7 linked regions of the Homo sapiens genome follow. The protein of the gene in region 1 purifies or fractionates together with the protein of each later gene. This does not show direct contact. Each region holds a gene or a part of one and is shown in the gene's direction. Other genes may lie near its edges. The genes, in order: CLEC3A, LBR, ATF6, RSPRY1, ZNF430, ZNF579 and LSM14B.

Evidence for each region.
Region 2: the proteins of CLEC3A (region 1) and LBR purify together in Homo sapiens (affinity purification with mass spectrometry; 2 studies listed by BioGRID and IntAct, with this or other methods). This does not show direct contact.
Region 3: the proteins of CLEC3A (region 1) and ATF6 purify together in Homo sapiens (affinity purification with mass spectrometry; 2 studies listed by BioGRID and IntAct, with this or other methods). This does not show direct contact.
Region 4: the proteins of CLEC3A (region 1) and RSPRY1 purify together in Homo sapiens (co-immunoprecipitation; 3 studies listed by BioGRID and IntAct, with this or other methods). This does not show direct contact.
Region 5: the proteins of CLEC3A (region 1) and ZNF430 purify together in Homo sapiens (affinity purification with mass spectrometry; 2 studies listed by BioGRID and IntAct, with this or other methods). This does not show direct contact.
Region 6: the proteins of CLEC3A (region 1) and ZNF579 purify together in Homo sapiens (affinity purification with mass spectrometry; 2 studies listed by BioGRID and IntAct, with this or other methods). This does not show direct contact.
Region 7: the proteins of CLEC3A (region 1) and LSM14B purify together in Homo sapiens (affinity purification with mass spectrometry; 2 studies listed by BioGRID and IntAct, with this or other methods). This does not show direct contact.

What each region holds. Positions count from the first base shown.
Region 1 is NC_000016.10:78,020,871-78,025,591, forward strand, and holds the start of CLEC3A (C-type lectin domain family 3 member A precursor), read left to right. Parts: upstream 1-1,677; 5' UTR 1,678-1,756; coding exon 1,757-1,871; intron 1,872-4,721. UniProt on the Homo sapiens protein: Promotes cell adhesion to laminin-332 and fibronectin.
Region 2 is NC_000001.11:225,407,360-225,411,331, reverse strand, and holds part of LBR (delta(14)-sterol reductase LBR), read left to right. Parts: intron 1-915; coding exon 916-1,041; intron 1,042-3,972. UniProt on the Homo sapiens protein: Catalyzes the reduction of the C14-unsaturated bond of lanosterol, as part of the metabolic pathway leading to cholesterol biosynthesis.
Region 3 is NC_000001.11:161,769,099-161,773,070, forward strand, and holds part of ATF6 (cyclic AMP-dependent transcription factor ATF-6 alpha), read left to right. Parts: exon of another isoform or gene 1-3,517; intron 3,518-3,972.
Region 4 is NC_000016.10:57,210,329-57,213,828, forward strand, and holds part of RSPRY1 (RING finger and SPRY domain-containing protein 1 isoform 1 precursor), read left to right. Parts: intron 1-2,643; coding exon 2,644-2,770; intron 2,771-3,500.
Region 5 is NC_000019.10:21,026,799-21,030,770, forward strand, and holds part of ZNF430 (zinc finger protein 430), read left to right. Parts: intron 1-3,972. UniProt on the Homo sapiens protein: May be involved in transcriptional regulation.
Region 6 is NC_000019.10:55,578,049-55,582,652, reverse strand, and holds the start of ZNF579 (zinc finger protein 579), read left to right. Parts: upstream 1-1,804; 5' UTR 1,805-1,858; intron 1,859-2,510; exon of another isoform or gene 2,511-3,011; 5' UTR 3,012-3,013; coding exon 3,014-4,604. UniProt on the Homo sapiens protein: May be involved in transcriptional regulation.
Region 7 is NC_000020.11:62,128,657-62,132,628, forward strand, and holds part of LSM14B (protein LSM14 homolog B), read left to right. Parts: intron 1-268; coding exon of another isoform or gene 269-376; intron 377-1,128; coding exon 1,129-1,296; intron 1,297-1,562; coding exon 1,563-1,640; intron 1,641-1,873; coding exon 1,874-2,035; intron 2,036-2,699; coding exon 2,700-2,850; intron 2,851-3,699; exon of another isoform or gene 3,700-3,972. UniProt on the Homo sapiens protein: mRNA-binding protein essential for female fertility, oocyte meiotic maturation and the assembly of MARDO (mitochondria-associated ribonucleoprotein domain), a membraneless compartment that stores maternal mRNAs in oocytes.

The sequences.
Region 1 (4,721 bases):
TAGGTTACAAAATGGCTTTAACTTGGAGGAAATGAAGATGAAATAGACTGTGGTTTTTCTCATTAAGATTCAGAAGGAAGCACTCATTCCTTGATTCTTTCTGTATTGTCTCAAAGAAAAAACAAAGGCAAAATGAACTTGGTCCTTCAGACCTTCCAAATCTGCAACCACTGCCCTCCATTTGCACCTGGTCAGCCAAATAAGCATGTGGAATGCAGGAAGGCCTTTCCCTGGGTCTAAATTCCTCCCTCTCGGCTATTCCTGTAATGCAAGTCCATTGCTTTTGATGCAAAAGCCTATCAGGTCCCGAAAACTTGCCCTTAAAGCCTATGGTTAAAGGTAGGAATAATTGAGTTTCTCATTACATTAATTTTATTTTTATTTTTTATTTGAGAAGGAGTCTGGCTCCGTCGCCCAGGCTGGAGTGCTGTGACAAAATCCCGGCTCACTGCAACTTCTGCCTTGTGAGTTCAAGCGATTCTCCTGCCTCAGCCTCCAGAGTAGCTGGGACTACAGACTCCTGCCACCACGCCCAACTAATCTTTTTGCGTTTTTTAGTAGAGACAGGGTTTCCTCATGTTGGCCAGGCTGGTCTCGAACTCCTGACCTCAAGTGATCCACACACCTCAGCGTCCCAAAGTGCCGGGATTACAGGCGTGAGCCACCACGCCCGGCGAGTCTCTCACTAGGTTTCTGTGCTATTACATCATGCACTTGAAAGTGTTGTTTAATGTGTTCAAGGAAAAATGATTGGTGAGGACCTGAAAAAATAGCTATTGATCTATTACATTAATTCTTATTCTAATGGAAATAATTCACTTTTTAAAATTTTCTTTTCACTGTAAGGTACATTTTCCCAAGAAAGTAATTTGCCCGGGCTGGAGGGCAGTGATCTCGAACTCCTGGGGCTCAGGTGATTCTCACACCTCAACCTCCCAGGTAGCTGGCATTACAAATGTGTGCCACCATGCCTGATGAATTTTTTTATTTTTTTGTAGAGATGGTGTTTCGCCATGTTGCCCGTGCTCTTCTCGAACTCCTGACCTCAAGGGATCCACCCACTTCGGCCTCCCACTGGGACTACAGGTGTGAGCCACCACATGCAGCCCCAAGGAAGTAATTCTTGATGAGTCTACAAAATCCTAATGGAGGAAAGCCCTATATTTTATCATCGAGTATCTATTTCCGCAATCTCCATAAATCCCACTGAGAAAACTACTTCCAAGCTACACTTGAGCTGCGCAGACACATGAGTATGAGTAGACACACTGGCTTGAATGGTGCTGTGGCACCACACACACACACACACGCAGTAACTTTCCTTTTTCTCCAATTTTTTTTTTGCCCTGAAAACTAAATTGAATCCATTTTCCAGAACATTTAGTGAATTTCAGAGTTCCAAATCAAAGAATTTTTCACAAAGACCCCAATCTTCTCAGAGTTTAAATTTAAAAAAAGAAAGCAGGCTAAACCTGTAGTTAAGTTTGACACACTCCAAAAAGGCAAATCACTAGGAAATGCAGCAGAAATTAAATAAATAGAAAGCCTAACATGAGGCACAAGAACAAGAGGCCACCTTATGCTGTGGCCAGCAGAGGCATTCAAACATTCCGTCAGCAGGATTCCAGCCAACCTCCGAAGCTCACTTTTATAAGCCAGCCCCAGGCATCCCAGAGCAAGATGTAGCTGTGTAGTCTCCTTCCATAGCTGCTCTAAGGGGGCTGGCAACATGGCTCAGCAGGCTTGCCCCAGAGCCATGGCAAAGAATGGACTTGTAATTTGCATCCTGGTGATCACCTTACTCCTGGACCAGACCACCAGCCACACATCCAGATTAAAAGCCAGGAAGCACAGCAAACGTCGAGTGAGAGGTAATGGGGCTTCTCAATCAAGCAAAATTCTAGGCTTAGACAGTGTGGGGAGGTGCTGGACAATGTTAATTTTCAAACTCCTCCAGGAGACTATCTTCGGTGATGGCACCATGCCATCATCCCTATATGGCATTTCAGGGGATTAAGTGAACTTGTAATGCTCTGGGATAGTTTATTTTAAAGAAACCAGGCTGCTGGGTTTTAAAAAAAAACAACAGGGAAAAAATTTGATAGTAAAAGAATTCTGTGTTGTATATTTTTTGTTAGGTGGGCTTAAATAGAATGTGCTTCAGAGGAAGCTCAAGTGGATTTCTGAAAATCTGGTGTTATTAATATGGGGCAAGAAGAATGTATTAACTGAGCACACTGTTTCACTAGTAGATATTGAGTAACTCAATTCAGTTATATTTTAAGATAACTATAATCTTATTCAATGTGTAGCAGAGGATAGAGATTTTGGTAATGGTGACTTCCTGTTTTGTCATTAGTTATCATTAGCTGTATTTCCATATCCTTGGCAGCATAAGGACAACCTATACCATATATTTAAACTTTTTCATGTCAGAGACATTGAATCTCTCCAACTTAAAAAAGTCAATATGCAAAGTCATCTAGTATTTGAAGGCATTGTGATGCAAAACTGAATCTCCCAGGAACCTCAAATTTTGAGTGACTTGAATTGGGTTAACAGGTTAAAGAAATTGAAAAGAACAATGATGATAGCGAGGTGTTTGCAATACGTTGAAACCTAAGCAAAAGAAAAAAACAAGACAGAGGGTCATGTTTTATCACATCCTCTGCATCATTTTCATTTCAGGATATTTCAGATTATGACTATTTCCTTATTTTCACTCCATTAGTAACAACACACACATACACAAATTTCAGCAAGGTTACAGTCTATTTCACATGACAGATGGCTGGTGGGTAAAAAGGGGTCTTGTGCTTTAAGGATTATAAAGTACCATTTTTTCAGGGACATTTATTTACAAAATTTAGGTCTGGTGCAAGGTTTCTTTTTTTTTTTTTTTTCTGAGACAGAGTCTCGCTCTGTCGCCCAGGCTGGAGGGCAGTGACACAATCTTGGCTCACTACAAGCTCCACCTCCTGGGTTCACGCCATTCTCCTGCCTCAGCCTCCCAAGTAGCTAGGACTACAGGCGCCTGCCACCACGCTCGACTAATTTTTTGTATTTTTAGTAGAGACGAGGTTTCGCCGTGTTAGCCAGGATGGTCTCGATCTCCTGACCTCGTGATTCGTCAGCCTCGGCCTCCCAAAGTGCTGGAATTACAGGCGTGAGCCACCGCGCCCGGCTAGTGCAAGGTTTCTTAAGTGGAATCTTTTTTCCTTAAGAAATACTGTACTTCTTTCGGTGAAAGATTAAAATATTTCTCATGAGTAGATGAAACATATTGCTGAAGATGGTATCGAAAGGAGAGGGGAGAGAGAAGATACTGGGTGACATGGTACATTTCTGTAGCCAGCGTTTCTTCACTGCTGGATGGAGTGGCACTCCTCGTGAGAGTGGCGATCACCCAGTAGGAATGTGTGAAGAGGGTCTGAACATGACTGAGTGTGCATGTGGGTGCTGTGTGGGTGTTTCTGAAGTAATCGCAGCTTAGGTCACATCCAGGTTTTCCAGGGGCCTCCCTCCCCTTCCTCCTCCCACTCTCTTCTCTCTCCCTACCTTCTTTCCCACTTCTTTACCCCCTTCTTCCCCACTGCCTCTGTCATAACCACATGTGCATGCACATGCTTTTATTTAAAAACAAAACAAAACAAAACTGACTAGGTACACACCTCTTAAATGTCATTCCCCCAGTATAGTTTTTGCTACTTTTTGCCATTAGGTCCTAGAAAGTAGATTCTACAGTAGGTGAAGCAATAAACCTAAACCGATCAAGCAATTATATCCCCACCCATCCATATACTTTTAAAATAGTTTAAGTACCTTGAAATATAATAATACCAGTGTTAAAGAGATCAAAAGTGAAAGCCATCTTCTCTCTCCCAATCCTCACCACAAAATTATCCACTATTAACTATCAGGTAATACTATTCCCAGAAGTTTTGTGTTTTGTTTTTTGTAGGATTGTTTGTTTTGAGACAGAGTCTCACTCTGCCACCCAGGCTGGAGTGCAGTGGTGTGATCTCGGCTCACTGCAACCTCTACCCACCAGGTTCAAACAATTCTAGTACCTCAGCCTCTCAAGTAGCTGGGACTACAGGTGCTCGCCACCATGCCCAGCTGATATTTGTACATACATCTTTTTTAGTATAGATGGGGTTTCACCATGTTGGCCAGGCTAGTCTCAAACTCCTGACCTCAGGTGATGGGATTGCAGGCATGAGCCATCATACCCAGCCTATTCCCAGAGTTTTTAAAATGCACAATTAAAATACATATTTTTAACAAAATAAGAATTGGCTATGCAGAATGTTTGGCTAGGCAAATAAATTTATTTCATCTATTAAACCTTGGATAGTTACCAGTGTAAGCAATACTTTATTCATTTTAACAGCTGCATAATATTCCATTGTTTGGATGGGTCATCACTTAATCTGATCTCTCCCAATACATCTCTTTTTGATTCAATAGCCCCAAGTAACTGCTTTGCACACATACTGCTCCCCATGTTAGGATGTTATGAGACATTTCCAGAAGTAAAATTGCAGGTTAATTATACTTTCTAATTGTCCCTCCAAATGATAACACCAATCCATCTTCCCATCTTCTGTGTATGGGAGTGCCCATTCCTATGTATTTTGACAGTCCAACATCATATAATGGTTTTACTGGCCATGTCTTCTGGGAATGACTTTTGTGTTTCTACACTGTGTCTACCTCTG
Region 2 (3,972 bases), on another chromosome or scaffold:
TCTGGTTTTTTTTCTTCTAAATTTCAATTCAATAGGTCTAATTAACTGCTAGAAAGAAATGTAGACCATTCAAAAATAAGCAGTGGGTGGTATATTTTTAGGGATAATTATGGCTTTCCATAAATCTATCAAAATACTTTCTTGTAAGTATTTTCCAGAGGTTTAAGATGCCCTGTTACAGGTTATGACAAATTAAATAACTTTTCTTTGCTTTATTTTTATTATATCAGTTTATATTTATGTAGGAAAGTGATAGTGTGGATGAATTAATGTAAGAAAAAATGCATTTTCCTCCTTTTTAAATTTTACCTAGTTTTAGGCTTGGAGTTGCAGATAGAGAGCAAAGAGTTCCCTTCCACCCTTCATTCTGTTTCTCACAACATTAACCTTGGAGGAAACCGTAGTGTAGTGATGAAGAACAGCAGATTAACATAGTGACAGCATTGGTTACCAAGTCCACAGGCCTCAGTCGAGTTCACCAGTTTTTCCGCTGTTGTCCTTTTTCTGTTCCAGGAACCTCGACAGGACTCCACAATACATTTAGTTGTTATTCCTTCTTAGTCTTCTCTAGTCTAATAGTTGTTTAGGCTTTCCTTGTCTCTCATGACCTTGATACTTTTTGGAAGGTACTGGTTGGTTATTTTGTAAGTGTCCCTCAGTTTGGGTCATTCCAGTGTTCTCTTTGATTGCGGTAAAGTTACCCACTGTGACAGGAACACAGAAATGATAGCTGTGTCCTTCTCAGTGCATTGGGTCCAGGGGCCCATGGTGCTGAGATGTCTTATTCCTGGTGGCGGGTAGGAGTTACGGTGGCGTCTGCCAGGTGTCTCAGCTGTGAAGCTCACTCATGCCTTTGTAGTGCTAAGGTCTCTGGGGAGGTGCTTTGAGGCTATATACTTTCCCCTTTTGTTTCAGGTGGTTATTAACTTGGTGATGCTTTTGGCTGAAATGAAAATACAGGACCGCGCTGTTCCATCCTTGGCCATGATTTTAGTTAATAGTTTCCAGCTTCTCTATGTGGTGGATGCTCTCTGGAATGAGGTAATTAATTTTAAGAGCCGAGGCCTTGGAGTCAGATGGCTTTGAGTGGGTGAGTGACCTGTCAGAGCCTCGGCTTCTTGCACACAAAGTGAGGGGAGCATGGCCTGCCTCCAAGGCTGCTTGAGAGGAGGACGAGGCCATCCATGTGAAGCTGACGAGGGAGCACTGACAGGTGGGAAGTTTCTAGGCATTTGGGAGTGCTTCAGTGTTTATCAGCTGTTCTTGTGTTTAAAAGTAATATTCTAAATATTTAAGATTGGTGGATCTTGGTTTTGTTTTTGTGGGTGGTGGTAATTATGGTATCACATGAAAATGGATGGATTATTACTAAATTAGAATGGTGTTTCTTGGACTGTCAAGAGTCACCTAGTTTTTAAATAATGGGGGAGATGTTTTATTGTTAATGTTTTAAAATACAAAGACTAGCTCTAATTAGATGAATGTAAAATCAGAAATCAAGATGCATTGAGGAAACCAGTTGAAATAAGGCTAAGTTTCCATCTTGTGTCTTTTTTCATACATTGATTAGTCTTTCTACTAGTTGAAGACTGGTAAATGTTTTGTTTGTTTTCTCTGTCTCAGCCAGCATATTCCTTTTAAAAATTTTGTCTTCCTCAGGCTTATTTTACAAGTATTTTATCGTATTTACTGTTATCTTTGTAATTATCTCCAAATTCCAACTCTAGTTTTCTTTCCATATTAAAAACAAATCTGGCAGCTGTACATCATAATGTTCCAAAACAAGTTTTAGTGACAGTCTGTTGAGACAATCTGCTGACATTTTGAGAGAAGACCTTTTCTCTTTGAGCCTGGAACATTAAAAAAAATTATATTATTTGGTCATCAATACTATGTATCTCCCCCACCCCTGCTGGCTGGTCTTTAATTTTGGCCTTCTATGCAAAATTGCAGAGAACATTTAGTCAGAACAACTTCGCAAGTTTGATATTGGTGTTTCGATGATCTCCTTGTTATTTAGGAAGATTAGGGCCACTTTGAGGTAAACCTCAATTACAAGCGGTGGGATTAGTGCTATCCGCTAATTACGGGTTCCTGTTGCGCTCCTACCACTTCACAGACCCTGGCTCAGAGCTTGGGAAGCTGTGAAGGTGGTGATAACACTTCAAATTGACTTTAAAAATTCCACGTCGACCCAAAATTAAACATGTTTTTGAAATTAAAAAACAACTGTTTTGTAAATGCACTTACTGTTACCAGTGTAGCTTTGTTTGCTGTTATAGAATGAATCGCCAAAAGAGCATATAGGTTACAGTTTGCAAATCAAATGATATTTCACAGTTGTGCTCACCTCAGAGGCTTCTTTAAACCTTCCTTTCTAGTAGCTTTCCACTGATCAGTGATTATTTCTTCTGGTTTCTTCTATTACTAGCTTTCTGCCATGTTGTGGTTGTCACTTTTTAATTGGCTTAGAAGTTGATATTTTCTATAGATTTAGCCAAACATTGACTTGTGTTAAAAGAAAATTTTTTGCATCTTAAGGCAAAACGCTTAATGCAATATTAACATAGCCCCAGGGGTAGAGAACTAGAGTTAGGAAATTGTTTTCTGTCTGTTCTCAGTATCTCAGCCAGATGATAATAAGCTTCTTGAGGAAAGATTGTATTTTATGATTTCTTCAGCATTCTGGCATGCCACTGGGCAATTAGCAGATGCTTAATAACTTCTGTCAGGTCACTTGATAGAAATCCCTCTGTATTCAAGAATGTGCTATACCTTAAGAAAACTGAGACTACCTGTTTAAATATGCATGACCCTTCCTCTGAGCCGTCCTGTGAAAGCCTTGGGGCTCAGGAGCTGGTGGGGCTAAGGTCCTCCCCCTACCCGGCATTGGGTGCTTACCCTTTGCCCTCTCACTGCCACTCACCACACCTGCTTTTATCTGCTCCCACCAATTTGTCACCTTTATCCTCTTTTGGACCAGGAATCAGATCACAGGCCTTGAGAGAGAAGAATAAGACACTCTTGGGGACAGAAAGTTAAAACACCGTGTGTCCTCACTTATATGTGGGCGCTAAAAAAGTTGATGTCATAGAAGTATAAAGTAGAACAGAGGATATGGGAAGGTGGGAAGGGTAGGGGGAAGGGAAGGATAGGGAGAGGTTTGTTAAAGGATACAAAATTACCACTCGATAGGAGGAGTAAGTTCTAAGTTCTAGTATTCTATACCACTGTAGGATGACTATAGTTAACAGTGATACATAGTTTCAAATAGCTAGAAGGATATTGAATATTCCTAACACAAAGAAAGAATGTGTTTGAGATGATGGATATGCTAATTACCTTGATTGGATTACTATATATTACATGTATTGCAACATCACTGTGTACCCCATAAATATGTACGATTATTACATGTCAATTTTTTTTTTTAAAGAGAATAAAGTACTCTGGTTAACTAAAGAGTATAAGCCTAAGGAGCTAGATTTTGTGAGATTGGTTTTTCTGTTTCATGTGACATCTGTTTTTCTGTTCCATGGCCTATTTGCTTTCTTTTCTGGAAAAAAATGCTATTTAGAGGTACCACTCTTTTTCTTTAACCTAGAACTTTGATTCTCCAACAGAGCTTATACTGGCTAATATTTCTACATCAGTGGTCTGTACTGAGGTTCTGGGTAGTTTAGAGATTCCCTTAGGCCAGACCTTCAGAGTGTTGACCTTGGTGGTGGTTCCGTATTCTAGAGTCTGGCCTGCCCGTATCCTGGGCCAGAGGCGATCTGGCTCATGCTAACCAAATCACCAGGGAGTAATGCACTTTTATTAATTTACATGAGAAGCGAAGCTGTCAGTTCACCATGTTGCCAGGCAGCTTAATTTCTTCTGTGGAAAATGCACATGAAATGCCAGATTATGAACAGAAATTAGATTGGTCCATGTGGAATTGAAACAAAAAGAGTTGGTGATCTTATTCCT
Region 3 (3,972 bases), on another chromosome or scaffold:
GTGATTACATGGTCACTGTTGCAACTACTCAAGTCTGCTGTGATAGTGCAGGAGCAGCCAGAGACAGCATAAACAAGTGAGCATGGCTGTGTTTCTATAAAGCTTTATAGACACTGAAATTTGAATTTCACATAATTATTTTAAATAATAAGCCTACTTTTTTAGTATAATTATAGATTTACACAATAATTGAGCAGATAGTACAAAGAGTCCACATACTTCCCCTTCATCCCCAGCTTCTCCTATTGGTAACATCTTGCATTAGTGTGGTACATTGGTTACAATTGATGAGCCAGTATTGATACATTATTATTAACTAAGCCCATCATTTAAAGTTCACTCTGTTGTACATTCTATGGCAGGGATCCCCAGCCTTTTGGCACCAGGGACTGGTTTCATGAAAGACAATTTTTCCACAGGAGGTGGGGACAGGGAGGCACAGGAAATGTTTTCAGGATGATTCAAGTGCATTACATTTATTGTGCACTTTATTTGTATTGTTATTACACTGTAATATATAATGAAATAATTATATAACTCAACATAATACAGAATTAGTGGGAGCCCTGAGCTTGTTTTCCTGCAACTAGATGGTCTCATCTGGGGGTGATGGGAGACAGTGATTAGATCATCAGGCGTTAGATTCTCATAAGGAGCGTGCACTCTAGATCCCTCACATGTGCAGTTCACAGTAGGGTTCACACTCCTATGAGAATCTAATGCTGCTGCTGATCTGACAGGTCGTGGAGCTCAGGCGGTAATGCAAGTGATGGGGAGTGGCTGTAAATACAGATGAAGCTTCGCTCACTCACCCACCTGCTGCTCACCTCCTGCTGTGTGGCCTGGTTCCCAACAGGGTTGGGAACCACTGTTCTATGGGTTTTGACAAAGGTATAATGACATGTATCCATAATTACAGTATTATATAGAATAGTTTCACTGCCCTAAAAAAGCCCTATGCTCTACCTATTTTTTCCTCCTTCCTCTTCCCTACCTCTGGTCAGGTAACCACTGATCTTTTCACTGTCTCCATGGTTTTGCCTTTTGCAGAATGTCATATAGTTGGAATCATACAGTATGTAGCATTTTTGAATTGGCTTCTTTCACTTAGCAATATGCACTTAAGGTCCCTCCATGTCTTTTCATGGCTTGATAGCTCATTTCTTCTTAGCACTAAATAGTATTACAAAAATACTATTTACAGTGTTACAAAAAATAGTATGTATGTTCTATAGCCTATTAGTCTGCCTAGGCTGCCATAAGACAACACCACAGACTGCGTGGTTTAAACAATGGAAATTTATTTTCTCCCAGTTCTGGAGGTTAGAGTTCAAGATCAAGATGGCCGCACCTTCAGGTTCTGGTTAGGGCTCTCTTCCTGGCTTGCATGCACATGGCTGCCTTCTTCTTGTGTCCTCACATGGCACTGAGAGAGAGAATCTTCTTCTTCTTATAAGGCCACAGTCCTATCAGATTAGTGCCCCACTTTAATGACCTCATTTAACTTTAATTACCTCCTAAAGACTGTATCTCTCGATATAGTAATATTTGGGGTTAGGGCTTCAACATACGAATTTTGGAGGACACAGTTTAGGCCATAAATTCACAGTTTGCTTATCCACTTACCTATTGAAGCACATCTTGGTTGCTTCCAACTTTTGGCAATTATATATAAAACTGCTGAAAACATTTGTGTGCAGGTTTTTGTGTGGACATGCATTTTCCAATTGTTTGGGTAAATATCAAGGAGCACAATTGCTGGATTGTGTGGTAAGAACATGTTTTTTGTTTGTTTTGTAAGAAATTGCCAAACTGTCTTCCAAAGTGGCTATACCATTTTGCATTCCCGCTAGCAATGAATGAGCATTTTTGATGCTCCACATCCTTGCTAACATTTGGTGTTGCCAGTACTTTGGATTTTAGTCATTCTAATAGGTGTGTAGTGGTATGTTTTAATTTGCAGTTTCCTGATGACATATGATGTTGAGCATCTTTTCATATGCTTATTTGCCGTCTGTATGTTTTACCCTCCTCTCTCCTTCTCTCTTCTCTTTTACTCTTGCTTGAATTTGTGCAAAAGCTGCTTTATTCTGCTTTCTTCTTTCTTCCCTCCTCCTCCTCCTTTCTCCTTTCTCCTTTTTCCTTCTCTTTATTCTTCTGTCAGCTGTACTTAAGATATGTGTATCAAGATCAGAAGCTTTCGTCTGCCACTGTGGTTTCGTTTATGTCTTCAGTCTCTTCTGTGAAGGTTCTCTTGGCTTTCTAGCACTAAATCAAAATCTGGTGCTCCTGGATGACACAACTTCCCGTAATGCCCCGGTGAACGGTTGCTAATTTTATTCTCAAAACCTTTTCACCATAGGGCCTCTGTTGGTGGGATAGGTGTCTCCATTGTCCTTCACTGCTATTCTCCTTTCCTCCTCCCTAAAAATATCTAAGTTGAAATCTCATTTTGTCACAATATCCCATCCTCTACCTCTCCTGATTCCTGGATCACTCTCTTTCACTTTTCTTTTTTTCTTTTAGAGATGGGGTCTTGTTCTCTTGCCCAGGTTGGAGCTGGAGTATGCGGTGGAGCAATCACAGCTCACTGCATCTTCAGACCCCTGGGGTCAAAGGATCCTCCTGCCTCAGCCTCCCGAGTAGCTGGGACTACAGACACATGCCACCATGCCTGGCTTCTTTTTGGCTTTTTGAAAACATTTTGCCACTAGCTTACTGTTACTTTCTTCACCATTACTTCCATCATGATTCTTGGATGATTTCAGTATCCTTAGAGAAGATCCTTCAGATACACTGACCTGTCATTTTCTGGACCTCCTCTTTATCACTGATCTTACCTTTTACCCAGTCTCAGCCATTTGCTTTCCTGATCATAAGCCTAAGTCTTGTCACTACCAATAACATCTCACTTTCAAACATCCTGCTCTGACTGCCTTCGCCTGTTTTACCAGCTTACTTCCTTTAGTATTCCAGTTTCAATAGTTGTTCAGTCCTTCTGAGATTTTGCCATGTTTCCAGTGTCTCTCATTCTCTTCAGTTCATCACGTCCCTCTTACCCAGTTTAAATACCATGGACAGTCATTGTCACTATTTCCTTCCTTTCACCTTTCATATTCATGTCTGTCTCTTTTCTGGTAGGTTTCTCTTGGATAAACCTATTAGTTAAATTCAGTTTTGCCCACTTCATGCCTGTCCTAGTATAGCTGAATCAGCTGAAGAAAACACTTCAACTGTCCTGACTGGTCTCAATTTAAGTGTTGCCAGACCAATCATATTTCCCTGGTCCTCTCACTGTCCCATTCTGATGATTGCTTTATAAAGTTTCTTCTATCTTCAAACCTCCAACATCTCTCCCATCCTTTGAATCAGAAGAGAACTTCTACAGTCTCCCACTACCTCATTTACCCACCTATCAACATGTTTGCTTTCTCTTTTGTTGGTGAGAATGAGTGGCTTCTTGCTCCTAGCTAGAGCCAGTCCTTCCATATGTGCTTTAGATTCTTCCTGTTTTGTTCAAGAATATTGCTCAAGCTATTCTTCCTCCTGTTTCCTGCATCAGCATTTCCCCTCTCTACTAGATCATCTCTGTCAGTAAATGAACATGTTGTTGTTTCTCCTAGAAGTACTGTTTCTATATCTAGATAGTACTCTAGCTAGAGTTAAAAAAAAAAAAAACAAAACCAACAAACTCAAAACTCTCTTCAGATGTTACTTCACCTCTTGCTGTTACTGCATTTCTCTACTGTATGTTACAGCAGAATTCCTTTTAAAAAATGTCCACGTTCACTGACTCTAGTTTTTTATTTCTCCTTGTCTCTTGAACCCAGTCCAGTCAGGTGCCACCACTCCACTGAAACTCCTGTTTTTTTTTTTTTTTTTTTTTTGAGACAGAGTCTTGCTCTGTTGCCCAGGCTAGAGTGCAATGGCACGATCTTGGCTCACTGTAACCTCCACCTCCTGGATTCAAGC
Region 4 (3,500 bases), about 21 Mb from region 1:
CTTGGCTTCTCAAAGTGTTGGGATTATACGTGTAAGCCACTGTGCCCAGCCTAGGTTAAAATTTTTTAAATGTTAAAAATAGAAGCATTTAAGGCTGGGCGCGGTGGTTCACGCCTGTAATCCTAGCACTTTGGGAGGCTGAGGTGGGTGGATCACCTGAGGTCAGGAGTTCGAGACCAGCCTGAACAGCATGGTGAAACCCCGTCTCTACTAAAATACCCCGTCTCTACTAAAAATCAGCCGGGAGTGGTGGCAGGCACCTGTAATCCCAGTACTCAGGAGGCTGAGGCACGAGAATTGTTTGAACCTGGGAGGCAATGGTTGCAGTGAGCTGAGATTGTGCTACTGCACTCCAGCCTGGGCGACAAAGCGAAACTCTGTCTCAAAAAAAAAAAAAGAAGCATTTAGGTTGGGCGCAGTGGCTCACACTTGTAATCTCAACACTTTGGGAGGCCAAAGCAGGCAGATTGTTTGAGTCCAGGAGTTCAAGACCAGCCTGGCAACATGGTGAAACCCTGTTTCTACAAAAAAATCCAAAAGTTAACAGGGTAACGTGGTGCATGCCTATAGTCCCAGCTGCTCAGGAGGCTGAGGTGGGAGGATCACTTGCAATCTGGAGGTCGAGATTGCAGTGAGACAAGATGGCGTTATTGCACTCCAGCCTGGTTAAAAAAAGAAGTATTTGTATCTCAGGTGGCGATCTTTATTCAGAAGCTAGAAGAGAATGTTGAGTTGCTTCGCTGATTTTCTTATCTTTCTCTAAGCAATTTCCTCATAACAAAAGTTTTAAGAATGTTTTTTATTAAGAGGAAAAACTGGGCTGAATGTACTGGCTCATGCCTGTGATCCCTGCACTTTGGGAGACCAAGGCAGGAGGATCAGTTAAGCTCAGGAGTTTGATACCAGCCTGAACAACATAGTGAGACCTTGTCTCTGTTAAAAAAAAAAAAAAAAAAGAAAGCCAGGCACGGTGGCTCATGCCTGTAATCCCAACACTTTGGGAGGCCAAGGCAGACAGATCACTTGAGGTCAGGAGTTCAAGACCAGCCTGGCCAACATGGTGAAACCTCATCTCTACTAAAAATACAAAAATTAGCCAGCACGATGGCGTGCACCTGTAATCCCAGCTACTTAGGAGGCTGAGGCAGGAGAATCACTTGAACTCGGAAGGTGGAGGCTGCAGTGAGCTGAGATTGCACCACTGCACTTCAGCCTGGGCGACAGAGTGAGACTCCATCTCAACAACAACAACAAAAAAAAGTTAAAACTGAAAGCACTTTTGAATCTTACTCAAATGTATTAATGATTAGTGTAACATTGGTTATCCTTTACATAGAACAAAAGCATCGAACTTTCATTGCTTTCCCATGTGTTTTACAGAGTCCTTTTTTTTTTTCTTTTTTTCTTCTTTTGGATTCTGGCATCTTTCATTTTTAAGATGGAGTCTTGCTATGTTGCCCAGACTGGTCTCAAACTCCTGGGCTCAAGCATCCTCCCACCTTGGCCTCCCAAAGTGCTGGGATTACAGGCATGAGCCACTGTGCCCAGCCTCAATTCTGGCATTTTCATTCATCTGTTTAAGCCCAGTGCAGAAAAACATTGTGGACGGAAGGGGAAAGTCTTTAGCGTAGTCACCAATGAATTGACCTTTGCCTAGGCTTATAAGAGCTGCCTGTTTCAATTTGCCTTCAACTCTGTTGGGGCAGGGTGCAGTGGTTCATGCCTATAATCCCAAAACTTTTGGGGGCTGAAGCAGGAGGATCACTTAAGGCCAGGAGTTCAAGACCAGCCTGGGCAACATAATGAGATTCCCATCTCTACAGAAAATTAAAATTATCTGGGCACTGTGACATGTGCCGGTAGTCCCAGCTACGAGGGAGGCTGAAGTGGGAGGATCACTTGAGCCCAGGAGGTAAAGGCTACAGTGAGCCATGATCACTTCACTGCACAGCAGCCTGGGAAACAGAGCAAGAGCAAAAAGAAAAGAAGAAAACTCTGCTGGGATTTGTTTTTGCTTAGTAAAACTTTTTTTAAAGTAACTTTTTACTTCAACATCACCAGCCTTTAATGTTTTCATAATGGCATCTGAGTGGGTTTAATCTGTTTAGTGATTCAAGAATATGTAGCATATATTTGATACAACTTAAGCATTCTGAATGAAGTGGAATCTAGTAAGTCATGTAAGGAGACTTTCAGGTTGATCAGATATTTCCCATCAATGATATCATTAGGGTACATTGCATAATTTTTATATGGTCATTCTGAGTTTATTTAACACCTGGTTATAGCTCCCCCCACCCCCCTGAGACGGAGCCTTGCTCTGTCGTCCAGGCTGGAGTGCAGTGGCACGATCTCGGCTCACTGCAACCTCTACCTCCCAGGTTCAAGTGATTCTCCTGCCTAAGCCTCCTGAGTAGCTGGGATTACAGGCGCGCACCACCACACCTGGCTAATTTTTGTATTCTTAGTAGAGATGGGGTTTCACCATGTTGGCCAGGCTGGTGTCGAACTCTTGACCTTGTGGTCCGCCCGCCTCGGCCTCCCAAAGTGCTGGTTATAGCTTTTGTCTCAAAAAAAAAATGAGCCTGGGAAAACAACCTGTGTAGTATATGGGTCAAACCCACTTGTACTTTTTTGTTTTAGGATGCACTCCAGAAATTGACTGAAATTCTCAATTTAAATGGAGAAGTAGCTTGCCAGGACTCAAGCCATCCTGCCAAACACAGGAACACATCTGCAGTCCTAGGCTGCTTGGCCGAGAAACTAGCAGGTAACTTTGGGACACTCCACAGTGGAAGATCTTAAGTTGTTTGACATTAAAGGGAAATTTGTACTGTATGTCTTTGATCAAACTGCTATACCAGAAAGAAATCTCTTAAAAATGATATTGAGAGACATAGACTAACTGGAAGAAAATTACTGAAAGGCTACAGAGGTGAATGCAATTTAATTTAGCTTTGTGGATTTTCAGGGGAAATTTTAAAAGAAAAAAGTTGTGCTTATTTGCTTTAAGAATAAGGAGCGAGGAAAAGAAAAAAGGGAGAAAAGCTAAATTCAGCATAACAAAGATATGTATGTGTGTATACAATATATAATTTGCATATATACACACTTTATAAAGTTTAGCTCGATTATGAAGACATACAAGGTAGAGGGAGAGGAAAAGGAACTTCTGGTTGGAGCAGTTCCTGAGAAGCAGGTATTTAATTTGTTTATGAATGTTACCCATTTTAAGAAAGTTAACAGCAAAGTACAGGGGCATAGCTCAGCTACTTACATCACGTAATGTGGAAGAAACAATGGATTAGAAATCAGAACATGTGGCTACTGGTTTGGACTCTCCCATGTGCTTGCCAAGTGCCCTGGAGTTAGTTGCTTAATTCTGTGGGCTCACTTGCTTAACTGTGAAATGGAGCTAGTACTATTTTCTACCTCAGAGCAGGAGGCTTTAATAAGATAATGTGCATGAAAGAGTTCTACCAAAACAATTTGATTGTTAC
Region 5 (3,972 bases), on another chromosome or scaffold:
TGTTTGGATGCCTTTTTTCTTTTCTTTTCTTTTTTTTTTTTTTTTTTTTTTTGAGACAGAGTCTTGCTCTCGCCAGGCTGGAGTGCAGTGGTGTGATCTCGGCTCACTGCAACCTCCGCCTCCCAGGTTGAAGCGATTCTCCTGCCTCAGCCTCCTGAGTAGCTGGGACTACAGGCACATGCCACCATGCCAAGCTAAGTTTTGTATTTTTAGGAGAGACGGGGTTTCACCATGTTGGCCAGGATGGTCTCGATCTCTTGACCTCGTGATCTGCTCACCTCAGCCTCCCAAAGTGCTGGGATTACAGGCGTGAGCCCCCATGCCCGGCAGATGCCTTTTATTTTCATCTCTTCTCTGATTGCTCTGGCCAGGATTTCCAATTTTATGTTGAATAGGATGTTTGAGAGAAGGCATCCTTATCTTGTGCCAGTTTTCAAGGAGGAATGCTTCCAGCTTGTGTCCATTCAGTGTGTTGGCTGTAAGTTTGTCGTTGATGTCTCATTGTTTTGAAGTATATACCTTCAATGCCTAGTTTGTTAAGGGTTTTAAACATGAAAAATGTTAAATTATATTGAAAGTATTTTTAGCATCTATTGAGATAATCTTGGTATTTGTTATTAGTTCTCTTTATGTGATGAATAACATTTATTGATTGTATATGGAACCAACTTGCCTCCCAGAGATGCAGCCTACTTGATTATAGTGGATTAGCTTTTTGATGTTCTTCTGAATTCAGTTTCCCAGTATTTTGTTGATGGTATTTTCATCAATGTTCATCAAGGATATTGGCTTGAAGTTTTCTTTTTTTTTTAATCTCTGCCAGGTTTTGATATCAGAATGATGCTATTCTTATATATAATGAGTTGAAAAGGAGTCCTTTCTTTTCAATATTTTGAAGTATTTTTAGTAGAAGTGGTACTAGCTCTTTTTTGTACATCTGGTAGAGTTCAGCTAGGAATTTGTCTGGTTCTTTGCTTTTTTTTGGCTAGTAGGCTATTTCTTACTAATTCAATTTTGGAGCTTGTTATTGGTCTATTCAGGGATTCAGTTTCTTATTTGTTCAGTCTCTGGAAAATGTGTCTTTGCTCCCAGGTTACTATTCTCAAGCTTGGCCCAAATAAACTCTTATATTCATGTTGCCTCAGCTTTTTCCTTTTAGGTAGTCATATCACGTAGAATGAGCTAGAGCAGCCTCTATGAGGGGATCTCTCCTTTGATTGTACTCCACTTGCTGTAACACCCAAGAATGCAGAGTGTGGTTGATCCTACCTAGAATCTGCACATAAGGTCTGGCCTCTTCCTGGGATTTACAGGACACGGCCAGACTTTAGGTTGAGAATGTACAGAAAACCAACAGGAGGCATTTTCTCCATTGTGAGTTGTCAACATAGACATCTTAAAGCCCCCTTTGACAGTGTGGTTCTTTAAGCTTTTCAGATCTTGTTCAGTGATTTGCCACAGTTATGTGAGAGGCTCCAGATATAAATAGAATCTGATGACAGAATCAGCATTTTAAGAGTGAGATATCAAAGTCATAATGTATCCATAGCCATGACCACAACTATACCTACCTGTAAAATGTGATACTGGAGTAGAGTATTCTTGTCTTTCTCCTTACCCAAAAGCTAGCAAATTGGGACAAGTGATTAGGTTCTGGAGCTCCACCAGGCCATTTTCTATTTAGAATCAGCCTGAATCTCTCCAGCCTGGATTATCATTGGGCCATCAGCCCAGGGTCACTAAGAACCCTCTCACAATCACCTAGACGTCTTTGAGACATTTGAGGATGTCCAGGGCAGAATTGTGTCAGGCTGACAAGAGTGGTTAATTCTGCTTCTGGCTTGGTGTAAGAGAAATGAGTCATTCTGTGTGTGTGTGGTTTTTTTAGGGTTTTTTTTCTTTTTTTAGACGGAGTATTGCTCTATCGCCCAGGCTGGAGTGCAGTGGCGCGATCTCGGCTCACTGCAACCTCCGCCTCCCGGGTTCAAGTGACTCTTCTGCCTCAGCCTCCCAAATAGCTGGGAATACAGGCACTTGCCACCATGCCTGGCTAATTTTTGCATTTTTAATAAAGACAGGGTTTCACCATATTGCACAGGCTGGTCTTGAACTCCTGACCTTGTGATCCGCCCACCTCAGCCTCCCAAAATGCTGGGATCACAGGTGTGAGCCACCATGCCTGGCAATTCTGTGTTTTTTTCTCCCCTTATACAAGAGATAACTTTGGTTGGTACCCAGATGAGAGTTTCTCAAGTTTCCTGATACTTGGATGAAAGCAATAGGAGGTCTGGTGACTCAAACAGATAAAGTAATTGTTTTCATTTTATATGGCCATTCAAAAAACAGATGAAGCAGTCATGATCCTTACTATCCAGGAACATGTCTAGACTAACAACTGGATACATGGGTGAATTAAGCATTATATGGTTGGTACAATGAATAGATGTGTCCAAAAAAAATTGGGGCCACTGTTTTATATTGTTACTTCTGATACCATCAGCTGAGGAGATATTTATGGAGTGAAGATTTGTTATTATTTGTGTTTCCTTTACTTTGCTAAGAATATATATTTATCTTCTAGTATAATTATTCTAAAGAACTTTAATAAATTTGTTTAAATTGCTTATTAGTATATGTTATAAAATTGACAGGGCAGTGGCAAAAATAGATTAAAGTTACATAAGCTCTGGGATTTAAGATTCTCTTATGTAAGCTTAGGAAAAACAGAACTGGAAATACCTTGGTGGCAGAGAGAACATAATTCTACATAGGGTCCTTTCCCTGCCCAAATTCTGTTCAGATTCACGTTTTTTGGAGGCCTTATTTATGTCTGGCCCCGCTCTGGAGCCTTACCTCACAAAACTGATTTATAAAAATCAGAGTTTTGGCTGGGTGTGGTGGCTCACACCTGTAATCCCAACACTTTGGGAGGCCGAGGCAGACAGATCATGAGGTCGAGAGTTTGAGACCAGCCTGACTAACATGGTGAAACCCCGTCTCTACTAAAAATACAAAAATTAGCCGGGCGTGGTGGCACATGCCTGTAATCCCAGCTGCTCAGGAGGCTGGGGCAGGAGAATCGCTTGAACCCGGGAGGCGGAGGTTGCATTGAGCCAAGATTGTGCCACTGCACTCCAGCCTGGTGACAGAGCGAGACTCCATCTAAAAAAAAAAAGACTGGAGTTTTGTCTGGTGAGTCCTGCTGCTTTTCTAGAGCTGGTGCTCACAATTTTCTGAAACCCAAAAACAGATAAATGACAGAAATAAACTATTTATTTTAGGATCTTATTTTTTGAATTTGTATTAAAACCAGTGCTTACAGAAACATTCCATTTAGCACCTTGTTTTCTGTTTCTGCCAATCTAGCAGTTGCTCCACAAGCCACAAACAAGTAAATGTATACACAATAAAAATTTCTCTAAACTACATTAAACTTTTTCTATGTTCTTCTCATCTGCCTGTATTTAACTTTTATTCTATACCTTTAAAACAAAATCAATGACAGAGAAACAGAGGGAGAAATAAAAATGCTGAACCCTTTATCTAAGTCCTGGGAATTATTGAACACTTAGTATCAACTTCCAGGGTGTTATTAGGATTAAATCACAAAATGTGTTATTCCCAGCACAGTGCTCTGTAACATATCCTTGAGCACATAGTACCTGCTTAATAAACATTGCATTTGTATATGTGTACATGTTATTTTCCAAAGGCAGATTTATTCAGACATTGCCGCCTTCTGTTTGTTCTGTAAACTTTAAAGAGCCAGCGAAGAATATAAAAATTTAAGATGGAGATTGGTTTTATTTGTACCAGAAGTATTTGTGTTGTGACAAGAGTGCTAAGTGTAAGGGACTCTGTGCTGTACCTGCTTCTCTAACTAATGCTAATGAGCCCAGGGGGAACAACATCAGCATTGACAGGGAACTTGTTTGAAACACGCATTCATGAACCCTTTTCAAACTTGCAGAT
Region 6 (4,604 bases), on another chromosome or scaffold:
TGGGAGGCCGAGGCAGGTGGATTGCTTGAGCCCAGGAGTTCAAGCCCAGCCTGGGCAACATAGGGAGACCCCATCTCTACAAAACATACAAAAATTAGCCAGACATGGTGGCACACTCCTGTAGCCCCACCTACTCAGGAGGCTGAGGTGGGAGGATTGCTTGAGCCCGGGAGGTCGAGGCTGCAGTGAGCCGAGATCACACCACTGCACTTCCTCCAGCCAGCCTGGGCAACAGAAGGAGATCTCATCTCAAAAGAAAACAAAACAAAACAAAAAAAAACAAACAAACAAAAAAACAAGGATAGAGTGTAGTAAATTTCTGTCCTGGAAGTTAGACTATGTTGCCAGTTTCAGTTTCTTCTCTCTTGTTCCAGTTCATCTGGACACAATCCCAGAACACACACAAACCCAGAACAGGCTGCAGGCTGTACTTGACCTTCCATTTTTCTCTTCTACAGGTTATCACTTGGAGACTTACCATATATGCACACGGTGAGCTTCTTTGTTCTTTTCTATGGACACCTAGTATTCCACTGGGTGGATCAGTCATGATTTATTACTCAGCTCTCCTACAGATGGGTGTTTAGATTGGTTTCAGCTGTTTGCAGTGATGTGCAGTACTGCAATGATTAACCTGGTGCAGACATTATTTTGTGCAGTTCCGAGTAGATGCCTCTGAAGAATAAATTCCTGGAATTGCTGGCTCGGTAAGAATGTTCCAGGTTCTACTTGCCCCAGCCGTGTATGAAAGGACCTGTTTGCTCGCACTCTCATTAGCACTGTTTGGCAGGAATGTAACCTTAAACAAACAGCGTCAAGCTGTGGGTATACTCCTGCAAAATGCCTTTTCTGCTCCAGAATAGGTTTCTGAGATGTCGCCAGGTTGGTTTCATTCTGCCAATTTCAGCTGAAACATTGCTGCCTCCAGGAAGACCTCAGGAATCACCTCCTCCCAGTGTGAGCTCAGCTCAGTGCCTTCTGTTCTCTGCATTCCCATAGCAGTTCCCTGCCTCGGAGCACACGTTCCCCCACATGCACTCCAGCGTGATTGATCCGTATCTATCTGCCTTCCCCATCAGACAGTGAGCTCCGGTTTTTGCCACTGTGACTCCAGCACCAAGGACAGCACCAGCCCATAGTAGGTGCTCAGTAAACATTGGCTGCTAAGGTCCCAGTGAATATGCGTATATGTAGACAAATATATGCAGGCTGGCCCGTAGTAGATATTCAGTAAATATTGGTCGCTTAGGGTTGAATGAGTATATGCAGGGGCTTTCACAAAGGGGGAAACCGAGGCTCGAAGTGGGAGAATCCTTCACCCAGACAGCCAAGGGAAGGCTGGAGCCAGGTTCTGATCCAGAGTGCCAGTACTTCCTGAAGCCTCTGTCACTGATTCATTCATCTTCCTCCCCCGGCCACTCCCCTGGCCTGACACAGTGCCTGGCACAGACAGGACCTGATAAATGTGTATTTGTTGAAGGAATGAATGAATATGTGTGTGTGCATGTTGGGGAGCCGGGAGTAGCTGGACCCAGTGTTCCAGGCCCTCAGCACCCTCCGCCCTCTGGGAGCCCGGGGGACAGGCCCCCAGCCCCCTCCCCTCACAGGACCCTGTAGTGCAAGCTGCCTTCCCTCCCCTCTCCAGGTCCCCCGTCCTCCCGCTTCCGGCTTCCCAGCCAGTCTTTCCTCTTTCAGGCTCCGAGGAAAGGCCAGGTTTCCGGGGGGAAGGCTTAGGCAGTGACACCGAGCCCAGCCTCCTCCTCCACCCCCCACCACGCTCAGGCCCCCCTCCCTCCCCGCCACCACCGTCCGCGTTTGGCCGGCCGTGGGGAAGGAAGAAAGGAGCCAAGGAGGCGAGGTAAGAACCCAGCCCCAGCGACCAGGACCAAGCCCCAGGCCCAGGGCTGAGAAATCCTCAAGGCCTCGACCCGGCCCCAATTCTGCTGATCATGCCTTCGGGGAGCTGCAGGCTTGGCCCGGAGGAGATCGGCCCCCCTCTAGGACCTGGGACCCCCGACCCCCACCAGCCTCCCTCCCGAGTCCAGGGGTCCGGCCCTCAGTCGCCTCCTCCCTGGGGATTCCCGGCAGCTGGGTCCCCAGCCCCCGCCTCCCCCTTGTCCTGGGAGCCCAGCCCCCTCCCCAGCCCCTCCTCCACCGGGACCCAGGAATCCACACCTCCTCCATACCAGAGTCCAGATTCCCCAATCCGTCATGACCTGGACCCAGGAGTCTCAATCCCCAGCTCCCATCCCCATCAGTCCCAAGAGTCTGGGCCCCTAGCCCCCTCCCAACTCAGACCAGAAGTCTGAACCCTCCTACTCCCCGACCTCTCCCAGCCCCTGGCATCTGAGAACACACTCTATTTCCGGGGCCTACCGGCTTCAAATCCCACCCCCTCCACTCAGGCCCCATGGGCTGTGTCCCAGCCCCTCCCAAAACGTTCAGCCTGGCCGGGGGACCTGGAGCAGAAGCGGTTCGCTGACTTTGTCCCCCTCCGTGCCTCTGCCCAGTTCACTCCCTCTGTGTCTCTGTCTCCCTGTCTCTCCGGCCCCCAACCCGCCACTGCTCTTCTGATCTCTGCTCTTGCACTATCTCTGCCTCTGGTTCTCCAAGTCTCTTTGTTTCCTCTTCTCTGTGTCTCTGTCTCTCTGCTGGGTGTTCCTCACTCTCCTCTGTCTCTTCTCTGCTCTGCCTTTCACCATCCTGTCTTTCTGCGACTCCTGGTCTCTGTCTGTCCATCCCCACTTCTCTGTGTCTCCCATCTCTGCCTTCTCCTGTCTCTATTCCCTGCTCTGTCGCTCTGTCTCTGATCTCTCTCCTCCTGTCTCTCCATCTCTGGCCTCCCCTCGGTGTCTCTCATCTTTGTCTCTGTCTCATATCTCTCTCCTGGCTAAATACCTGACCCTCTCTGCCTCTCCATCTCTGACTGTCTCTGCTTCTCTTTCTGCCACACCCCACGCACCTCTTTTTATCTCTGCCCCGCTTCCCATCTCTCCCCTCTCTCCCCACAGGCATGGATCCGCAGCCTCCTCCACCCGCCCAGGGCAGCCCACCTCACCGTGGCCGAGGCCGGGGCCGTGGCCGAGGCCGTGGTCGGGGCCGTGGCCGTGGCAGGGGGGGCGCTGGAGCCCCTAGGGCGCCCCTGCCCTGCCCCACCTGCGGCCGCCTCTTCCGTTTCCCCTACTACCTCTCCCGGCACCGGCTGAGCCACTCGGGGCTCCGGCCCCACGCCTGCCCGCTGTGCCCCAAGGCCTTCCGCCGGCCGGCCCACCTTTCCCGCCACCTGCGCGGCCACGGGCCCCAGCCCCCGCTGCGCTGCGCCGCCTGCCCCCGCACCTTCCCAGAACCGGCCCAGCTCAGGCGCCACCTGGCTCAGGAGCACGCGGGCGGCGAGGTCGAGCTGGCCATCGAGAGGGTGGCCAAGGAGACGGCCGAACCCAGCTGGGGCCCGCAGGACGAGGGCTCGGAGCCGCCCACCACCGCTGCAGCAGGGGCCACGGAGGAGGAGGCGGTCGCAGCGTGGCCTGAGACGTGGCCTGCGGGGGAGCCTTCCACGCTGGCTGCGCCCACCAGCGCCGCGGAGCCCCGGGAGTCGGAGTCGGAGGAGGCCGAGGCCGGGGCAGCAGAGCTGAGGGCCGAGCTGGCGCTGGCGGCCGGGCGGCAGGAGGAGAAACAGGTCCTGCTCCAGGCAGACTGGACGCTGCTGTGTCTGCGCTGCCGCGAAGCCTTCGCCACCAAGGGCGAGCTCAAGGCGCACCCGTGTCTGCGCCCCGAGGGCGAACAGGAAGGGGAAGGGGGGCCCCCGCCACGCCCCAAGCGACACCAGTGCTCCATCTGCCTCAAGGCCTTCGCCAGGCCCTGGTCCCTGTCGCGCCACCGGCTGGTCCACTCCACCGACCGCCCTTTCGTGTGCCCAGACTGCGGCCTGGCCTTCCGCCTCGCCTCCTACCTCCGCCAGCACCGCCGCGTCCACGGCCCCCTCAGCCTGCTGGCCCCGCTGCCCGCGGCGGGCAAGAAGGACGACAAGGCCTCGGGTGCACGGAACTCAGCCAAGGGGCCGGAGGGGGGCGAGGGGGCGGAGTGCGGGGGTGCCTCGGAAGGGGGAGAAGGGCAGAACGGAGGCGACGCCGCCCCGGCTCGGCCCCCCGCCGGGGAGCCCCGCTTCTGGTGCCCAGAGTGCGGCAAAGGTTTCAGGCGCCGGGCGCACCTGCGGCAGCACGGGGTGACCCACTCGGGAGCGCGCCCCTTCCAGTGCGTGCGCTGCCAGCGGGAGTTCAAGCGCCTGGCCGACCTGGCGCGCCACGCACAGGTGCACGCGGGGGGCCCAGCCCCGCACCCGTGCCCCCGCTGCCCGCGCCGCTTCTCGCGCGCCTACAGCCTCCTGCGCCACCAGCGCTGCCACCGCGCAGAGCTGGAGAGGGCCGCCGCGCTGCAGGCACTGCAGGCCCAGGCCCCGACGTCGCCGCCACCGCCCCCGCCGCCCCTGAAGGCCGAGCAGGAGGAAGAAGGGCTCCCGCTGCCCCTCGCAAACATTAAGGAAGAGCCGCCCTCTCCGGGGACCCCACCCCAGTCCCCGCCGGCTCCCCCTGTCTTCCTCAGCGCCT
Region 7 (3,972 bases), on another chromosome or scaffold:
GGCAGTGCTGTGTTTGTCTCCCGGACATGCTGAGTGAGACAATCAGTGAGAAAGTGGCCCGGGTGCATTCCCGCCAGAGGACACTTTCCAGACCTCTATGCAGAGTCGTTCCAACCTGCCCTTTGAGAGCTTCTCTTGATCTGGTTACAAGGAATTTTTCTACAGTCAATTTTTTTTTTCATTTCTATTCCGTAAAAGCAGTAAGATGAGATGCCCAGTCTTCATGTGTATTGGGCTGTTCGTCTAATAATAATTACCCTGTGGTTAGGGTGCCTTTTCTGTTTCAGATCTCTGTTCACTTACACCCAGTCCCACATTGTCCTGTTTAGAGTCCCTACAGGTCCTGGAACCTTGGAAAGGGAGGAGATGGAGAGAGGTGGGTGGTGCTTCCCATTTTCCTCCTGATTCAGAGGGCCTGGTTTCTGAGGGTTCATCCCCTGTGCGTGGGCCTCGGACTGCAGTTTCATAGGCATAGCCCCTTGCCAAAGGCTACCTAGGAGCCCTTTGTGTCTTCATGATGAGCCTTTGCCCTTGAGAGAAGTGTAGGCTGCTACGTCTCGGAAGTCAGCTCCTGCTTCATCATTTTTAGTTTTATTGTGCCTTAAGTGGAAATGACAGTGTTGTAGAATTTAACTTCAGAATTTGTTCACTGCATTTTCTAGAAAATCCCAGGCTGGGCTGGTTCTTCTCCAGTGTGGACCAGAATGAAACAAATTCTCAGATCCTGAATTCATCAGGATCTTGGGGCTGCTGAGCTCCTTTGGGATTGGAGCTTGTGTGGTTTTAAGAAAGCTGTTTCCACACTTCTGGGGAGGTGCCTGTTTGTAGGCACGGTGTTTTTCCTGTCCTTGAGGTTCCCTAACTTGGGAAGCTCAGGGCTTTGGGAGTGGGGAGTCCAAAGATGAACTGGCCTTGGTGCTGCCCAGTGACTCTTGGCCTTCTTTTGCTGCCTGGGCTAGCCTCAGAGGGAATGGCCCAGTCTGGGGGTGCTTTGCCTGGATTTGATAGAACATCTAGGCAGTTGCCCTCCTTTCCTTCCTGACATGCCAGCAGAAGAGAAATGCCTGGAGATATAAGGCTTGCTTCTTTTCTCTCTGTTTTTAAACCCTCCTCCCCTCCTCAATTCAGGAGCTGGTTTTCCATCCATCCCAGTCGGCAAGAGCCCCATGGTGGAGCAGGCTGTGCAGACTGGTTCTGCTGACAACCTGAATGCTAAAAAGCTGTTACCTGGCAAGGGCACCACAGGGACGCAGCTCAACGGTCGTCAGGCCCAGCCGAGCAGCAAGACGGCCAGCGGTACTTGAACACATCATTTCCTGGAGTTTGCTTGATGTTCTAAAAGTGGCACACTACTTCCTGGGCTATTTTTTTTTTTTTAATTAAAAAAATACTACTCCCCCATCCTAAGCCCCATGTGCTTTTGCAGGGCAGGCCTGTGCAGCAGCCTCCTGCGGTGCCGCCCTGGCCGCGTGCCCCATGGTGGTGGGGCCTGCTTCCACAGCTGGGTTCTGGCTTCCGGCTGCTATAGGAGCTTTGCCTTACTCTTCCCTTTTGCGCCGTAGATGTAGTCCAGCCGGCAGCTGTGCAAGCTCAAGGGCAGGTGAATGACGAGAACAGAAGACCTCAGAGGAGGCGATCAGGTAACACCTGTTGCCACTTGATTTCTGGGGACCACGAGTGATCAGGCTGAGCTCTGCTTGCCCTCCTGCCTGCTTCTCTGGTTGACGGTTTCAGGGGTGCTGGTGTGAAGTCGCTGCTTGTGTGCTCTGTTCCTTCTGTGGCCTTGGGGGTGTGCCTGGAAATTCCTTGTGAGGTGTTTGAGATCACTGGGTTGGTGACCTACTTCAGCCAGGGCTGTCCTTTGTCCTCACAGGAAACAGGCGAACAAGGAATCGCTCCAGAGGGCAAAACCGTCCAACTAACGTTAAGGAAAACACAATCAAATTTGAGGGTGACTTTGATTTCGAGAGTGCAAATGCCCAGTTCAACCGAGAGGAGCTTGACAAAGAATTTAAGAAGAAACTGAATTTTAAAGGTTTGGCTCATTATATGAAAATTATTCTCTGCACAGGAGTACCCCTAGAGAGTGTTAGGAGGAGATGCCTGGCCGGGTGTGGTGGTTCACGCCTGTAATCTCAGCACTTTGGGAGGCTGAGGTGGGTGGATCACCTGAGGTCAGGAGTTCAACACCAGCCTGGCCAACACAATGAAACCCCATCTGTACTAAAAATCCAAAAATTAGCCAGGCGTGGTGGTGGGCGCCTGTAATCCCAGCTACTCGGGAGACTGAGACAGGAGAATCGTTTGAACCCAGGAGGTGGAGGTTGCAGTGGGAGTGAGCCAAGATTGCGCCACTGCACTCCAGCCGGGCGATAGAGCAAGACTCTGTCTCAAGGAAAAGGAAGAGATGCCTAGAGGAACCGGGGATGCCAGGCGGATGGTGACCGGCAGTGAGGAATTAATGAAGTGAGGTGCTGGGAGGTGTGAAAATGGGTGGGATAAGGTGCAGACTGCACAGCCCAGACGGCAGAACGAGACCTGTACTTAGAAGGTAGAAGAAGAGATTTCTGCTTTGCACAAGGCATAGTTGATGTCTTAGCTTGAGGGTGGCTTCCGAGTGAGCCCGGAGGGACCACCCTGCTAAAAGGCTGTGCGCTCTGCCCCTCCTCCATCTCCACGTGTTCTGCTTCTTTTTGTAGATGACAAGGCTGAGAAGGGGGAAGAGAAGGACCTGGCTGTGGTGACCCAGAGTGCCGAAGCGCCCGCTGAGGAAGACCTTCTGGGGCCCAACTGCTACTATGACAAATCCAAGTCGTTCTTCGACAACATCTCTTCTGAACTCAAGACCAGGTGAGAGGCTGAATGAATGAGGGGAGGACAGTCCTCCAATCTAGAAAGGACAGGGCTGAGGGCTCTCAACCTGAGGGCAGAGCTGGACTCTGAGGCTCAGGGTAGCTGTTCTAGGGTCCTGCTTGCGTTTCTGCATGATGGGTGCCGGAGTCCCAGCAGGTTGCGTGTGGGAAGCCTCTTGGGGATCCCGACCCGAGGAGTTGGCTGAGGTCGAGCCTGTTTCCTCTTGGCTTTGCTGCCCTGTCCCCACAAAGGCTGGGCTGCACCGCCCCCCCCGGCAGACCCGTGTCCACATTCAGCATACCTCACGGTGCTCTGCTTGCTGGTCCCGCTGGCCTGGCAGCCTGAGGTCCTTGCTTAGCAGCCTGAGGTATGGCTAGAACGTGCTCACACTGGCTTTCCTTCACTTCATTGTTTGAGGCCAGGGACCATGTGGTGTGTTTTATTTTTCACACCTAACAGCTGGTCAGAAGTCCCGCGAAGCACCCTAGGGAGTGGGTGGCATCTACAGTGTGGGCCTGGCTTGGAAACTTGGGCCCATTTGTCCTGCAGATTGAGCGCCAGACATGCCGCGGGGCGTTGAGGGGGCCTCAGAAGGCAGGCTGGAGAGCGCCACCTCTTCAGGTTCATGTTCTGCCAGGGGAAAAATAGAACAGCATGTCGTGAAGGCCAGGCAGTGAGGGCGATGGGATGGGGCTGTAACTCGATGGGAAGTGGATGATCAGTTCTCACAGGCAGAGCAGGCTGCGCAGATGAGTGCGGGAAGTGCTTCCAGACAGGCCGAGTCTGGGGGATGGGTTCCTGTAGGGTTTTGTAGGGCATGGCAGTGACTTTGGCTTTTGTTCCAAGTGCCGCGGGAAGCCATCAGAGGGTTTTGTGCTGAAGCGTGGTGCGGTCTGATGTTTTACGGCGTCCTTGGTGAGAGTGGTTGGACGGTGGGCAAGTGTGGCTGCTGACTGGCCAGTTAGGGGCCAGTGCTGCAGCACAGGTGGCTTGGAACCAGGCAGTGGTGGTGACAGAGGGAAGGAGTAGAGTCTAAATGTGTCTTGAAGGTGGCGCTAACAGAATTGGCCAACATGACAAGAGAAGAGTCCAGAATGACTCCTAAGTCTTTTGGCCTGG